Regions from separate parts of the Homo sapiens genome. Here region 1 is linked to region 2. Evidence: fine-mapped expression QTL. A gene starts in region 2. The other region holds a variant in brackets. All regions are shown on one strand. Distances are between the middles of the regions. Region 1 overlaps ADK (adenosine kinase). Region 2 holds the start of ADK (adenosine kinase).

Region 1 (8,340 bases), 190 kb before region 2:
AAAACACCAAGAACAGGGATTTATATTATACAAGCAAGTACATGAAATGGAAAACTACCATGAGAGCCAACATACACTGGATTTAGGATTAAGGAGTGTAAATATACTAGAAATCTTTGAAGAAGTTAAGAAGGACAGCCAAAGACAATAAAAACAGACAGCAAGAAGTAAGTTAATGATTGCAAAAATCCTTTTTTTTTTTTTTTTTTGAGACGGAGTCTCGCTCTTGTTGTCCAGGCTGCAGTGCAGTGGCAGGATCTCGGCTCACTGCAACCTCCACCTTCCCAGGTTCAAGTGATTCTCCTGCCTCAGCCTCCCGAGTAGCTAGGATTACAGGCACCCGCCAACACACCCAGCTAATTTTTTTTTTTTGTATTTTTAGTAGAGACAGGGTTTCACCATGTTGGCCAGGCTGGTCTCAAACTCCTGACCTCATAATCCACCTGCCTGGGCCTCCCTAATTGCTGGGATTAACAGGAGTAAGCCACCGCACAGATATACTATGGCAAGTGTAAGAAACCTTAGTATAAACATTGTAAAAATGCAAGTCTAAATGTGAAGGAAACAAATCTAGAGCATCACTTTGAATATACTTATTATAGTATACTATCAAGGAGAAGAAAAATAACTTTAACTTTGAATGTTAACTATAGCACAATGAAATGAGAACAAGTGTTCTTCAATCAAGCTAATAAGATTTCACTCTAAGTTTCTGACATAAAGGATAATGATAGATGTCTAATGAATAGAGTTAATATTGAAATCATTAAGAAGTATTTTCATATTTTATGAGGTTTTTAAAAAAGTATTTCAGACACAATGTTCCAATGTTCCAATAACATTCTACATATTGTACTATGCCTGATATAAATGTACTTTGCAAATGGGCAATAAATTTGCCAGCCATTTTAATCTTTCAAAATTAAGTATTTAAAATTGGTAATATGCAGCATGCTATATAGACAATTAAAACAGTAAAAAAAAGTATACTGAGTGAAAAATAAGTCTCTCACAAACAGCAATTCCTCAGTTTTCCTCCACTGGTTTCCAGTTTCATATGTGTTCTTACTGAATTTCTATTTATGTTATTTCTTGACTCTATTCTGATGCCCAGATCTGTCAATATATAAACACATAATATATATACACTGAAATATACACTGAATTTTCCAAAACAGTCTAGGTTTCTATTCTTTTTAATCAAAGCAAATGCTATGTATGGCTTCATTTTAATTTCTACTTGCTTACAAGTTTCAATAGTAATATTCAGAGTTGTCAAATTAGGAAGCAAGATATATCACCTGAAACCTGGTTTAGACAACATTTTAAAAATTAAAAGTCATCAGGTATATAAATGAAGATTGTCATACTACTCAAAAATTATATGGGAATATAAGGAAACAACTGACTTTTTCTCATACAAACAATACTAAATGCAGACACACAATGAAACAATAAACACAGTACTTTAGATTTTTAACTGGAATTTCACACCTTTTCCTTACCCCTACATCCAAAATACTATTTTTCTGATCAGAGTTGAATACTAAAATTAAATGTAAATTAATATGCTATTTTAAAATCAAACTAAAACCAATTTATAGTAATAGAATATGTTAATATTAACTCAAACAGTTTAAATTCCCTCCTATGTACATGAAAAATGGCCCTTCAAAATGGAAGGGAATTTCATCATCTGGTTTAAAAATAACAATGAAATAAAGAGCAGCACAAACAAGACTACTTTTGGCCTCTGGCTTCTTTCAGTATAGAAGTATTATAAAGAAAAGAGTAAGCCAGTGTTGATATAGTAAAGAAACCTCCACTTTAATAAATCATTTTTTCAGGAAAAGAAGTAGTCTGCAAAATCTGTGAAAGTGATTTATCTTCAGGTGAATAAAATGAACAGTAATTGATCTTGTACCTAGGGAGTGATTCTTCTTCCACCAGTTACAAACATATCTCTGTTAAATATCACTAGAATAGGTTAGGTAATCTCATGTTTTGAATAATTTATTTGCACACTTAAGATTTAGGATTTATTCTAAAGTTTATGTCCAACACCACAGTTTCAGTTGGGCCATTAACTTGTTCATTATTTCATCACTTTTTGCATCTGTAAAATGAGTCCAGCTTTGTATGGGACCATCATAGAAATGACACCAAACACAGATTTGGTGGGTGAAAGAGTTATGTCAGAGGTAAGATGATCATGAAAAAGGGATATAGGCTGAGATACGTGAAATGGGCACAAATTGGTAAAGTGAAGGAAAAGAATGTTACATGCAGAGGAATCTGTATGTTTATGTCAACAAGATATATGATTACCAAACGTTTCACTTCACAGCAAAGAATTTTGAAGAAATCAAGACTGTCTTTTAATTTAGTGTATAAAGTGGATCATTTTAAAAATAACATCTACTTTACTTATATTGGTTATCCTAGAAATTCTGTGAAGAGGCTAAAAAAGGAATTTAGGCCAGGGCAGTGGCTCACCCCTGTAATCCCAGCACTTTAGAAGGCCAAGGCAGAAGGACTGCTTGAAGCCAGGAGACTGAGACCAGCCTGGGCAACATGGTGAGACCCCCATCTCTACAAAAAATAAAAATAAAAAAATTAGCGAGCCATGGTGGCATGCACCTATAGTCCTAGCTACCTGGGAGGCTGGAAGCAGGAGAATCCCTTGAGCCCAGGTGTTTGAGGCTACAGTGAGCTATGATTGTGCCACTGCACTCCAGCCTGGGAAATGGAACAAGACACTGTCTCTTAAAAGAAATTTTTTTAAAAAAAGCTCCCCAAAGTAGACATTACATGCATTGTTCTTAGTGTGTGTGTACTATTCTATAAAATCTTATCAGCTGTAAAGATTCATGTACTCACCAGCACAATTAAGACACAGAACTATTCCATCACCACAAAGAAGCCCTCTCCTGCAACTCCCTTATAGTCATACCTATCCCCTTCTCCCACATTATCTCTAACTCCTGGAATGACAGGTTAATTTTCCAACACTAATTTTTTTTCATTTAAGTAATACTATATAATTGGAATCATACAGTATGTAACACTTTGAGTTTAGCTTTTTTTTTACTTCGTGTGATGAACTTAAGATCTACGGAAACTGTTGACTGTACCAGTAATTTATTCTTTTACAAAGCTTGGTATTCCATTCGATAGATATATCACAGTTTGTTTATCTATTCACCTGTTGAAAGTTATCTGGATTCTTTCCAGTTTGAGGCAATTACAAATTAAGCTGATGTAAATATTTGTGTAGCAAGTTTTTACATATACATAAATTTCCATTTTTCTATGTTAAATACTCAGGAATATGATTGCTGAGTCATATGGAATATTTATCTTTAATTTTATTAAAAATGCCAAACTGTTTTCCAGAGTGGCTGTGTCATTTTCCTATCAGCAACAGATGAGAAATCCATTCATTCTGTATTCTCACCAGTTTTTACTTTCGCTATCCACATATGTATGCAGCAGTATCTTATAGTTTTAATTTGCACTTCTCTAATGGCTAAGAATATTGAAAATATTTTACATGGCTTACTTGCTATTTTATATATTCATTTTTATCATTTAAGTTTTTGTTGTTGTTGTTGTTGTTGTTATCCTAGAAATTCTGTATAGAGGCTAGAAAAGGAATTTAGGCCAGGGGTAGTGGCTCATGCCTGTAATCCCAGCACTTTAGGAAGCTGAGGCAGGAGGACTGCTTGAAGCCAGGGTCTCGCTCTGTCACCCAGACTGGAGTGTAGTGGTGCAATCACAGCTCATTTAAGATTCTTAAATACATTTGTAGCCCAGCGTGGTGGCAGGTGCCTGTAATCCCAGTTACTCGGGAGGCTGAGGCATGACAATCACTTGAACCCGGGAGGCGGAGGCTGCGGTGAGCCGAGATTGCATCACTGCACTCCAGCCTGGGCTACAAGAGCAAGACTCTGACTCAAAAAAAAAAAAAAAAAA[AT/T]CATCCGAAGAGGGAATATACAATATCTTCAAGCTCACAGTTAGTAAGCTCTTCTAGCTAATAGTAGGACAACACAGATTAATATACAAAAAGCTAATGAAGCCAGCTGTAGTAATAAAAAGTAGAGGAGTGTAAGTATAGAAAATTTACTTAGAAATGTCTTTATAGAGATGATTTGATTAAAGCTATTCACTTTGATAACCCAGGAAAGGCACTTAAAATTCACAAGGCATGAGTCAGATAATGTCAGTGTCTGTACAGTATCCTTTGGACCTAACCCTTTCCCACCATTCCAAATTACTTCCAATAGCCAGTATCTTCCTCTGTATCCCTCAGGGCTTTCCTCTGAATGGCTGAATGCTACTCTGCCCACCACAGCACCAGGCAGGTGCAATGTCTTCTGTATGGCAGTCCACAACCAGTAACAGGAAATATACTCACTCTCTCACACTTCAGGTGAGTTAGTCCCGAAACTAAATTTGACACTGACTTTCCCAGAATTATCCCACAAGATAAAGCTCCAGCAACCTATTGTGTTAGTTTAGTTAGTAAGTCTTCATTAGCTGCCTTGCTTTCCTTGCATCAATTCTTGCCTGTTACATACGTCTCCAAAGTAGACTTTGTTCTAAAATCCTTGCTTCAGGGTTCTGCTGCTGGGAAAACTTATGTATGTTAAACCACCCACCACAACAAAATAACTCTCATTAAAAATAAAAAATACTTGGAAGCAAAAGGTAGTGACAATAAATAAGACATATATATAGGCCCACCATATCCATGGGATCTGCATCTGCAGACCAACCAACCAACAGCAGATCAAAAATACTTGGAAGTGGGGGAAATGGATAGTTGTTGAGTCTGTACTGAACAGGTACAGACTTTTTTCTTGTCATTATTCCCTAAATAACACAGTATAACAAGTATTTACTTAGCATTTATAGTGTATTAGGTATTATAAGCAATCTGGGGATTATTTAAAGTATATGGGAGGATATGCATAGGTTATGTGCAAATATTATGCCATTTAAGGGACTTGAGTATCCATGGATTTGGTATCCACAGAGGGTCCTAGAACCAATCCCTTATGGGCACTAAGGGATGACTGTACTTTCCTTTCTCTATTTACTTTTTCTATTTATTATTATTTCATAACTCTCTTCAATTGTAAATTAACAGCATTTCCCCTGCATATTGAAAACCTAATTTCTAATATGTCCATTACATTAAAATTAACAGTGCAAAATTACAGACGTCTACAACTACAAAAAATATTGACCTGTAAAATGCAATAAATTCAACTTCCATGATTAGACAGCAAAAAAAACAAACACATTAAGCTACAGTAATCAGAGAAGTATGATATTGGAGAAAGAAGAGACATATAGATCAATGAAACAGAATATGGAACATAGATATACAACCACATAATTGATTTTCAAAAAAGTACAATGGCAATTAAAGAGATTTAAATAGACTTCAGGGAAGAGTAATGGATCAATTGGATATCCATATGCCAAAGCAAAAAACAATAGCAAAAAACAATAATCAAAAACTCTGTTACAGACCTCACCCAATATACACAAAACTTAACTCAAAATGGATCACAGATCTACATGTAAAAAGTAAAACTATGAAATTTCTAGTAGAAAATATAGGAGTAAATCTTTCTCACCCTGGATTAGGCAAAGAGTTCTTATATGACACAAAAGCATAATCCATTTTAAAAGTACATAAATTTGTAAGAACTTCTGCTCACTGAAAGACATTGTTAGGAAAATGAAAACACAAGCCACTCACTAGGAGAAAATATTTGCAAATCACACATCTGATAAGTCTTGTCTGCAGAACAGATAAAGAATTCTCAAAACTCTGTAACAAAAATAAACACAATTTTTTTTAAAAAAAAGGCAAAGAGTTTGAAGAGATACTTCTTCAAAGAACATATACAGATAGCAAATAAGCATATAAAAATGTGCTTCACATAATTAGGGAAGTAGAAACAAACAATGAGATGCTCCTCTCCCCCTTACAATTGATGTAGTAATAAAAGCTGACAATATCAAGTGCTGAAAGGATGTGAAACCACTAGACCTCTCATATATTACTAGTGGGAATGTGAAATGGCACAGCCACTTTGGAAAGGAGTTTGGCAATACATCTAGTAAAATGAAAATTTATGTTAACACAAAAACGTATAAATATTTTTAGCAGCTTTATTCATAATCACCAGAAACAATTCAAATATCCCTCTAGAGTGGATAGAGACACAAGGTGCAGTACATCACGATGATAGAAAACTACTCAGCCATTAAAATTTAAAAACTATTGACAAAGCAAATGGATGAATCTAAGATGAACTTACGTCAACTGAAGAAAGTCAGATTCAAAGGCTATGCACAACATGATTCCATTTGTGTGTATCAGTACCTCAGGAGAGCTGGAGAAAGCTGGGCTGCCACGTTTTGGCACAGCCAATGGCAACAAGCCAAAAAAATAAATAAATAAAATAAAATAAAATAAAGAATAGGTCTGTAATCACTGTGACAGTATAAGAGGCTAAATTGGAGAAAGTGCCAGCTACCCCCCATTCCATTTTCCCCTGTGGCATGGCACATTGGTCACAGGGCAGGTAGACCAGCACAAATGTGAGGGTTGCATCATTGCCAAAGGGAACCCCCAACAAAAGATTCTGGCAGTTTTACAGACCCAGGAGTCGAGTGAAGGCTAGAGAGGGAAGGGTTAGAAACAGAAAAGTACAAGTCATAGTAGAGAAAGAGTTGGTAAGTGTCTTCCCCTCTTTTCCCCAATAAAGTCTTGACAGAGACACTTAAGGAAAGCCTCCCCAAAAGCCCCACATAAAGAGGCCTCTGAATGAAGGCACCTAGGCTAGGAACGCAGATATGTATAAGAGGATGGCTGGGTCCTTGACTGCAATTCCCCTCAGAGACTATAAAAGCTTTGCACCAAGTCTGCTCTGGAGACCAGCCCTCCCCCTATGAAGCCTGCCAGGAAAACCTCTGTAAATGCCTTATGATCAGACCTAAAAAATCACTCATAGGTTGTTGGCCAGAAGCAGGAACCCTCAATACAAGTCACCGGAAAAGGCAAAACTATACAAACAGAAAATTATGGAGACTGGGATTTGATTTTACCCTATTTAATAAAAGCTAACACAAAAGCCTCTTAACTAATTCATGGATGCAGGCAGAAGACACAAGACTCCTCAGTCAAAGAAAAAACACTTCATTACTTATGACAAAACAGAAGAACATCAGCACATTTGCATCAGTTCCCTTCATCCCAAGTCCTTTGGGGATGCTCAGATGGATGCTATGCTTGTAGTGAGTTTGCATCAGCAAATGAGAAGCACTGAACTCAGGGAATCCACCAATTTTATAGCAAGCAGTAAATAAGCTTGCTTTTTGTCTGGGAACAGATGTTATCTCATGTCTCAAGTTTATCAGCTGCATATATAACCCTGAGAAATGTCCCAGGAAAAAGGGCAGTCAGAACCTTACAGTCTTCACAAACAAGTGAGGAGAACTGTCTCTGTCAACAAAAACAGAGCAGGGATTGCCAAGGGCTGAAGTAGGGGAAAGGAAGACTACAAAGGGGACACAGGGAAAGTTTTGAGGTGATGAAACTATTCTCTATCTTATTTCTGATACTGGTTGCTAGACTGTGCATGTGTCATAACTTGCAGAAACATACACTACAAAGATCACTTTTTTGTATATAAATTATAACTTAATTTTAAAATGGAAAAAATACTTTTGAAAAAAAGTATTTTTTGAAAAATAAATTTATTTGAAAAGAATTTCTTTTCTAGAAAAAAGTAAATCTTCCCTTAAAAAAACAAAAATATACCCAGGACCCTGTGGTACCATCCCTGGTGTCCCTTTCTGCATACGTCTACTTTCAGTTGCCAACTACTTAATGTTTACAGTATTCATTTGAGGTTAATTAATTATACTTTCAGATATGCTTCAATACCTATTCAAGCATTAAATCAGGACTTATAATTTTGAAATCTTTTTTTCTTACAACAGTTTTTGAGAAAAAAATAGATTAAATTTGCAAAACAATAAATTAAAAATTAGTATAGCTTACTGTTGCCTTTCAGCTCTCTCAATCAAGATATCAAAAATAAAATAACATTTGGCAGGCATCCCTTCATACTCCCCACCATGGATATTAACTCACAAATAAGATAAACCCTCAAAATTATTAAATTGCCATTGTTCATGTTTCTCCTATTGACCAATGATCTAAACTCTCATTTTAGTAAGGTTCTAATAGAATGGAACATCTGTTTTATGTTACATGGGAGGCAGCAAAATTCTTCCTCTCTGACTGGATTACTA
Region 2 (8,300 bases):
ATTTGCCGTGATGAATAAGTAGAGCTGTGCCTAAAGAAAAGTAGGCAGAACTTGAGGCTGAAGGTAAAGAGACTGCTTAGGAAGTCAAAACAAAATCTAAGCAAAAGATAAAGTCTAAACGTAAGGTGTGGCAGCAGGAATGGAAAAGGAAAGACATTATAATGTGGATGTAAAATGAATCAAATATCTAGGTCTCAAACTTTGGAGTAAAGGAGGTTACTGGTGCCATTAACAGATGCAGGAAATATGGAAAAATGCACAGATTCAGGATAACAGATAATTTAGTTTGGTATATATGACTTCGAAATGTCAGAAAGTCACTCAGAAGCACATACTCAGCAGACAGTAAAAATTAAGGTCTGGGAAGGCAGGGCACGGTGGCTCACACCTGTAATCCCAACACTTTGGGAGGCTGAGGCAGGTGGATCGCTTGAGGTCAGAAGTTCAAGACCAGCCTAGCCAACATGGCAAAATCCCGTCTCTACTAAAAATACAAAAATTAGCCAGGCATAGTGGTGTACGCCTGTAATCCCAGCTACTTGGGAGGCGGAGGCAGCAGAATTGCTTGAACCCAGGAGGCAGAGGTTGCAGTGAGCCGAGATGGTGCCACTGCACTCCAACCTGTGCGCCAGAGTGAGACTCCAACTCAAAAATATATACAAAATTAAATTAAATTAAGATCTGAGAACTGAGAGGCACAGAGATAGAAAGGACACATGTGAGAGTGTCTAATACAAAGCCTGGACCCCATACATCTCTGCTTCAGTCAGACTATCTGCACTTCCCCAAGAGGCAGCTCTCTCCCAGTTCTGCCACCAAACAAACTTTCCTATAAGGCAGATACCCTACTTCACAGATACCCTACAGTCACAGATGACTGGTTAACTCCTAGTCATCTTTAAGAATACTCAGGTGTCATTTTCCCAAACCCCACTTATTTCCCACCAAGAGGATGGTACCTGTGCCTTACCTCTTTCTCTCTCTATATATATCCAGTTTTTAACACCATGTCTAAAATAGCATGTACTTGAAAGACAAACTGAAGGAAAAGACTTGGCACGTGCTCAACAAGCCTTGGAAGGCACTGTAGCCTCTTAAGAGGCGATCGCTAAAGAAATGAACTTGGATGAGATTTCCAAAGGAGAGAAAAGAAAACTAAGTTGTCTTAAATATAAGTGATCATCATGGAACACCTTCATCTAGGGAGCAGTTCCCAAAAATGTTTCTCCACTTCTTTCATCACAAAATAGCTCGTCTGTAACACAGGAATCATTGCTCCTACCTCATAGGTCACTGGGAGGGTTAAAAGAGATAACATATATAGAGCACATAGTATAATGTCTAGCACTCAATTAACGTTCCCTTCTTTCCCCTAATCCCACGTGAAAACATGTCAGAGCCTGATTCTTTCTTTATAAGCAACTGTTATATGCTGAAAAGCAACCGAGCCTAGAAAAATAATAGATATTTGAGAAAGGCAGACTAGTCTTGTCAGATGCTCCCTCTAGAACAGATTTCTCAACCTCAACACCGTTGACGTATTTGGCCAGATAATTCTTTGTTGTGGGGGTTGTCCTATGTAGCATGTTTAGCAGCACCCCTGAATTCCATCCACTAGGTGCCAATAGCTCTCCCTACCAAAAATATCTTTCTAGACCACGCCAAATGTCCCCTGGAGGGCAAAATTTCCCCTGGTGGAGAATTATTATCCCAGAGCTGACCAAATTCTCACAAATCCCTAAATCTAAATATTTTTCCTGACATCTACAAATATATCTCATTATTTGTTCCCACTGATGCTGCACATTAAATTATGCAAAGTCTTTATAATCCATTCTCCTTAACCAAAACCAGTAGCAATCCCCTGTCAAGCAAGTCATCATAAATTCAGTGTAAATACTCAATGCATTATCACACTTTGAGTCTGAAAGCAAATTAATATAATAAAAGTAATAATAGCCGATCCTAAAATGTCTCCCCACAAAATTAGAGATTTGTCCCAGTACTCAAGTGTCTAATCTTTTAACTTCATGTCTACAGGTGGCACTAAATTCATATTGTATAAAGTGAATTTTAGTTGCCTAAGGAATGCTCTCACCACAGCCTCACAAAGCACCAGGACTGCAGGTATAAGAAAACATGCTCAGCTAGTTCCTATTTCTGTTCCTGTACTAATTGTTTTATTTGGGCTTCAATATCTTCAATTGTAAAATAGGCATAATTCTTGCCTTCCTTTGATCACAGAACTGTCCAACAAGATAATAAATAGGAAAACACAGTGAAAATGGATCAGCATTATATATAATAATTTTTATTAAGGAAAAATCTAAGGAAATCTAAGGGTTATATGTTCAGTAGGATGGTAGGGAAAAGTTGCATCTGTCTTCCAGTTTGGCGAAGGAGGTGCCTTATAAGGAAATACTCTAATAAAGGGCAGAGTAGGGAAAGCACATGCCTTGAACTCAGGTAGGTCTGATTCAAAAGCCGTTGCTTTTTATTCTGCATATAGTTGGAATATTTAAAATAAAAATAGAATATCCTGAGGGTTTTTATTTTAAAGTTTATGTTCTTGGTATAAGGTAGGCACACTAACCCTTTGAGGGTAGTAGGAATACATTAAAGGAACTGGCAAGGATTTGTTCACCCTCCATTCAAAGCAGCATGAACACACCACCAGGCCCCTAAGTGTCCTTTTCTTTTCAATTGTGAGTGATTCCTTCCTTTGGAGGTGAAGAAGAGTGATACTGGAAGAAATGGGATATGTCCTGTTTAATCAGGAGTGTCCTAATAGTTTTAAATCAGTTTGATATGTCTATTTTAAGATGGAAAAAAAAATCGCTGCCTTTCAGCGAACATTTCCAAATCATCAAAGACTGCCTGCTTCACTTTATACTTATTAGGAAGGGATATTTTAACAAATGACTCTTCATAAGTAAAAGTTGCAACATCAATCACATGTGAGGCAGGTGTTAGGGGCAGCACTGTCCCCGTTGCTGCCAAAAAGTGTAAATAAAAAAGAGAAATCAACCTTTCCTATCCATTCATCCAAATGCTGCCCCTGCAAAGCATCGGAGGGGTCTGGGTCCCTGGTAGAGGGTCCTCAAAGGTACGGGCTTTCAGAATGTGCACGAAAAGGAAGGTCAACGTGCCCTTCCGCAACACTCTGAAAAATCCCCAAGAATTCTGACTTTGCCCCAGTGTACAGCAGTTGCCGAGCCTCTTTCCCGCCATCCCCCGGGAAGAGAAGGCGGCCGCCTACAGACGCTGCTCCGGTCCGACCCTCCGGGGTCGCACCAGCCCAGCCTGGGCTTGCTCGCAGGTGGCGCGGTCAGCCAGCTCGGTCCCCCTGCGGGCCACGACTGGCGAAGGGCTGCTGGAGCCGGAGCTGCACCAGACAGGCGGGGACTCAGCCAAACGGAGAGAACGTCTGGCAAGGGGTCGCGGCCAAGCGGGCAGCTGGGGGAGGTCCTGCGTGTTGGCCCCAAGCTGGCAGTGAGAGACACCACCCAGCGTCGGGGCCGTGCAACCCCACGTGGGCCCTGGCTTGCTTGCAGCGCCGTCACCCTCCTCCCCAAGTCCGGCAGCGCTCACCTCAGCGCTTGCGGCGCCTCCACCTTCAGCTTTTTGGGCTTCGGCTCCTCCTCAGCAGCTGCCATCTTCGCGCTCCCACCCCACTTTGGCTCTACAGCCCACCTCTGCCATCCACTCTCTGGTCCCGCCCCCTCTTCGCATCACCGCTTTCTCTTCTCCAAATCCCGCCCCTCCAGACTCCGCCCATTCTGTGCCGCTGTCATCCACAATCATTGGCTCTATCCGTCGGCACCAACAGCGAATGCCCCGCCCATTCCTGACCCCGCCTCCCCTACCATGAGGGACCCCAGACTGCGTTAGGCAGCAGATGACCGCCTGAATCTAGATGGAGAGAAACCCACCATTTTTCTAGGCCCTGGATTATGTAGAAGATTTAGATACTAAGCCTCAAGAGACGTCTTTCCTCTCATTTACGGTCTTCCTGCATATTTAAAATTTCTAATACGGTAGACAGAGTCGGTGTCTTTGAAGCTGTTAATCAGGCAATTTCCTGGGCACTCCAGCTGCGGGTCCTCGCGGCCTTCTCGGCTTCTCCAGCTTCGGTAGGAGAGGATCCGGCGCCGAATCACTGACTGGCACAGGTGTTGGGGTGAGTGTGAGGGGCGGGAAATCTGTGGACTGGGGACAGCTCCAAAACCCGGGAGTAGGCTGAATAGCTGGGGCCCCCGACTCCGATCTGGGCTCTAGGAGCGTCTTTGGTGCTGTTGGCCCGGGCCTCGCTTCCCCCCCACTCCCGGCCTTCCGGGCTTTCTCGCCAGCAAGGCCAGAAGGGAGCGGTCCACCTGCAGCCCAGTGTTCTCAGGCGCCTGAGCCCCGGAGGTCAAGCTTACTGGGTTCCCCCTCTATAGTGAGCTGGAGTACAGACGGCAGGAATCTCAGTCCCAGGTTTCTGCTTTGGAGGACAAAACCCCAAACGGACCTGAGCAGACGTCCTGTTAGCGGGTGGTGCCTGGAAGAGCCTGGGGTGAGGAATGCAGTGAGAAGGGTGTTGCAGTTCTTCAGGAGAGAGGTAACGGGGTTCTAAGCTGAGCAGGTGGCAGTGAGTGTGGAAGAGTGACGGGCGATGTGGCTGTTTGTATTTGGTAGATTTGTTTGAACCTGAAACTTACAGCCTTATGTGTGATTAAGAAGATGGTGCCAGTGACAGGAGGAGGTATTTTATGGAGTTTGAGTTTTATCGAATTTGAAACAGTGGTTTACATGGAGATTGTAGAAAGACTTTAAAAAAAATTATGAGAATTAAGCCCGAAAGACTTTCAAGGTGAGACCCAAAACAGATGAAGTTTCATATAAAAGGGTAAGAAGTATTTTTGTTTAGGAGAAAGTTATCAATGACATAAAATGCTGCAATGGTCAGAGGAGGAAGCTGAAATCAGAATAGGTCGTTGGATTTTATAATTAGAAAGTCATTGAGCTGTTTGAGAGAGATGCTTTAATAGTAACTGAGGAAAGACTGCAAGTGTAGACCAATCCTTCATCATTTGGGGCATGAAGCAAGATTATTGAGAGTGGCAAGGTGGGGGAAAGTTTGGGGTTTGTTTTAAAGAATACAAGATATCTATTTGGGGGCAGGAAGCAAGCAACTATTTGAAGATTCAAGAAAAAGTCTTGTCTCCCAGAAGAGAAGGAAAGGAATGGGATCAAGTTACAAGTGAAAGGATTAATTTGGGAAAGACAGAGGGACACTTTCAATTGACACTATAGGAGAAGTGAAGTGAATGAGGTTAATGAAGAATTATCTTAATTTACGAATCTTGGCCAGGCGCGGTGGCTCACGCCTGTAATCTCAGCACTTTGGCAGGCTGAAGCGGGCGGATCACAAAGTCAGGAGTTCGAGACCAACCTGGCCAACATAGTGAAACCCTGTCTCTACTAAAAATACAAAAATTAGCCAGGTGTGGTGGCACACGCCTGTAGTCCCAGCTACTTGGTAGGCTGAGGCAGGAGAATCCCTTGAACCCGGGAGGCGGAAGTTGCAGTAAGCTGAGACCTCACCACTGCACTCCACCCTGAGCGACAGAGCGAGACTCTGCCTCGAAAAAAAAAAAAAAAAAAAAAAAAAAAAAAAAAAAAAAACCTTACGTATCTTTAGGAAAGCTCTCTTTGCAACAAGATTATATTTTCTTACTTAATCTTATGATTTTTATTTCTAACCATTTAATATAATATACGGCCAGGCACGGTAGGGCTCATGCCTGTAATCCCAGCACTTTGAGAGGCTGAGGTGGGTGGATCACGAGGTCAAGAGATCGAGACCATCCTGGCAAATATGGAGAAACCCCGTCACTACTAAAAATATAAAAATTATCTGGGCGTGGTGGCACGTGCCTGTAGTCCCAGCTACTCGGGAGGTTGAGGCAGGAGAATCGCTTGAACCCAGGAAGCGGAGGTTGTGGTAAGCTGAGATTGCGCCACTGCACTCCAGCCTGGCAATAGAGTAAGACTCCGTCTCAAAAAAAAAAAAAACAAACCAATATACTATGGGCAGATGGAGTGCGGTGGCTCACGCCTGTAATCCTAGCACTTTGGGTGGGTGAGGCGGGAAAATCACTTGAGGCCAGGAGCTGGAAATCAGCCTGGGCAACATAGCGAGACTCCATCTCTACAAAAAATTTAAACATTAGCCAGGCTTTGTGGCATGTGGTTGTAGTCCTAGCTACTCAGGAGGTAGAGGCAGAATGAGGCAGAAGGATCACTTGAGCCCAGGAGTTCAAAGTTACAGTGAGCTATGATTGGTCCACTGCACTTCAGCCTGGGCAACAAAACAAGACCCTATCTCTTAAAAAAAAATACATATACACATACGCTATGGGAGTTCTTTGCAGATTTAAATATTTTTAAGTAGCTCAGTACTGTGTCAATTCATGAGTAGCACATGGTATTTACAGAGAAGAGGACTTCTCTCTCCCTTTGGAAATGACCTCTCTCCCATTACACAGAGAAGGAGAGCCATCATCTGCCTGCAGTCAAGTATACAAACCTTCCCTTCAATCTGAAGAGTAGAAAGTGTTCCTTCTCCTTAGAGAAGGCAAACCCTTTGACCTAGTCTCTCAGTAGCATCCTCTCCTGCTATGTCAGGGTCCTCTTTCCGTTTTTCCCTCTCTCCTATGTCAGCTTTTCCCCCTCTATTCACACCTTTCCTTCAGCATTTGAATGTATTCTTCCTTCACTTTATGAACTGCTGCATTTATTTTCCTGTCTTTTCATCCTCTTCACAGCTAGACTTCTTGAATCTACTCTACATATCTCTATTTTTTTACACTTCTTGCTATTTATTTCCCAGCCCACTGCAATGTCTTATTTCTAGCATTCCACTGAACTACCACCAAAACTATTTTTTTTTTCTGAGATGGAGTCTTGCTCTTGTCGCCCAGGCTGGAGTGCAATGGCAATCTCGGCTCACTGCAACCTCCGCCTCCAGAGTTCAAGTGATTCTTCCGCCTCAGCCTCCCGAGTAGCTGGGATTACAGGCGCCTACCACCATGCCCAGCTAACTTTTGTATTTTTAGTAGAGACAGGGTTTCGCCATGTTGGCCAGGCTGGTCTCGAACTCCTGACCTCGTGATCTGCCCGCCTCAGCCTCCCAAAGTGCTGGGATTACAGGTGTGAGCCACCGCACCCAGCCCACCAAAACTACCTTTACCAAGATCACCAGTGTCCTCTGTGTGTTAAATCATGCATTCTCAAAGCAGATAAAAACTGCTTCTTGTGAGGTGAAAAAAATATAATACTCTTTTTATGTGTAAAGCACAAATACAATACATAAACAGAGAATATTCTGTGGTATTAAAATTTTATGGTGATATTAATTAGCTTCATTTAATTATTCCACATTTCATAAATCATAACATCTGGTACCCCTAAATATATACAACTATAATTTGTCAATTTACAGTTGAAAAAGAAAGAATAATAAAAAGTTTTATGGGTGAGGAATTTGATTGGCAGGGTGGTGAGAAGATGGAGTCTAAAAGGGCTCCTTAGCAGGCATTAAGGAAAAGAAAGTTTAAAAAACACTCTTAAATCAACAGACATTTTCAATTCTTTTTTGTTGTTGTTGAGATGGAGTCTCGCTCTGTCATCCAGGCTAGAGTGCAGTGGCGCCATCTCGGCTCACTGCAGCCTCCACCTCCCGGGTTCAAGCGATTCTCCTGCCTCAGCCTCCAGAGCAGCCGGGATTACAGGCACCCACCACCACACCCAGCTAATTTGTTGGTATTTTTAGTGGAGATGGGATTTCACCATGTTGGCCAGGCTGGTCTCGAACTCCCGAGCTCAGGTGATACTCCCACTTTGGCCTCCCAAAGTGCTGGGATTATAGGTGTGAGCACCACGCCCAGCTGACATTTTCAATTCTCGTAGCTTAACCTCTTTGTGCCATGTAACAGTATTTACCACTCCATTCTTCTGGAAATACACTAATAAGCTATAGTTACTAAAAACCACCCTGTTTTTTTTTTTTTCTTAGGACTCTTCAGTCACATCTTGGTCATTCTTTAGGTCCACTTCCTTGACCCACCTCCTACTCAAATGTTGGAGTTCCTGCCATAAGCTCTCTTCATACTATGCACATTCTTTCTTTTGTTTCAATTCTCCTTTTGATTAATTCCCATTAACAAAAAATCCTGATTACTTACAATTCTGATTCCAATCTGGCTTCTCTAAAGCACCAGAAGGGTATATATAATAGTTTTTTGAATATATTTATT

The links.
Region 1: its variant is fine-mapped to the expression of ADK in whole blood (INTERVAL, PIP above 0.99).

Annotation. Positions count from the first base shown.
Region 1 is chr10:74,333,397-74,341,736 of GRCh38, reverse strand. The region is part of intron 4 of ADK (adenosine kinase); the gene reads right to left. Among named protein-coding and RNA genes, the nearest start is that of ADK, 190 kb to the right of the region's middle. The variant AT/T (reference allele first, on the strand shown) is at 3,976.
Region 2 is chr10:74,146,635-74,154,934 of GRCh38, reverse strand. ADK (adenosine kinase) reads right to left here and starts at 3,714. Exons shown (of 11, transcript NM_006721.4): 1 at 3,592-3,714. The coding sequence starts at 3,656. It overlaps AP3M1 (adaptor related protein complex 3 subunit mu 1), which reads left to right and starts at 4,107. Exons shown (of 9, transcript NM_012095.6): 1 at 4,107-4,180. RefSeq lists enhancers at 3,364-3,543, 3,954-4,183.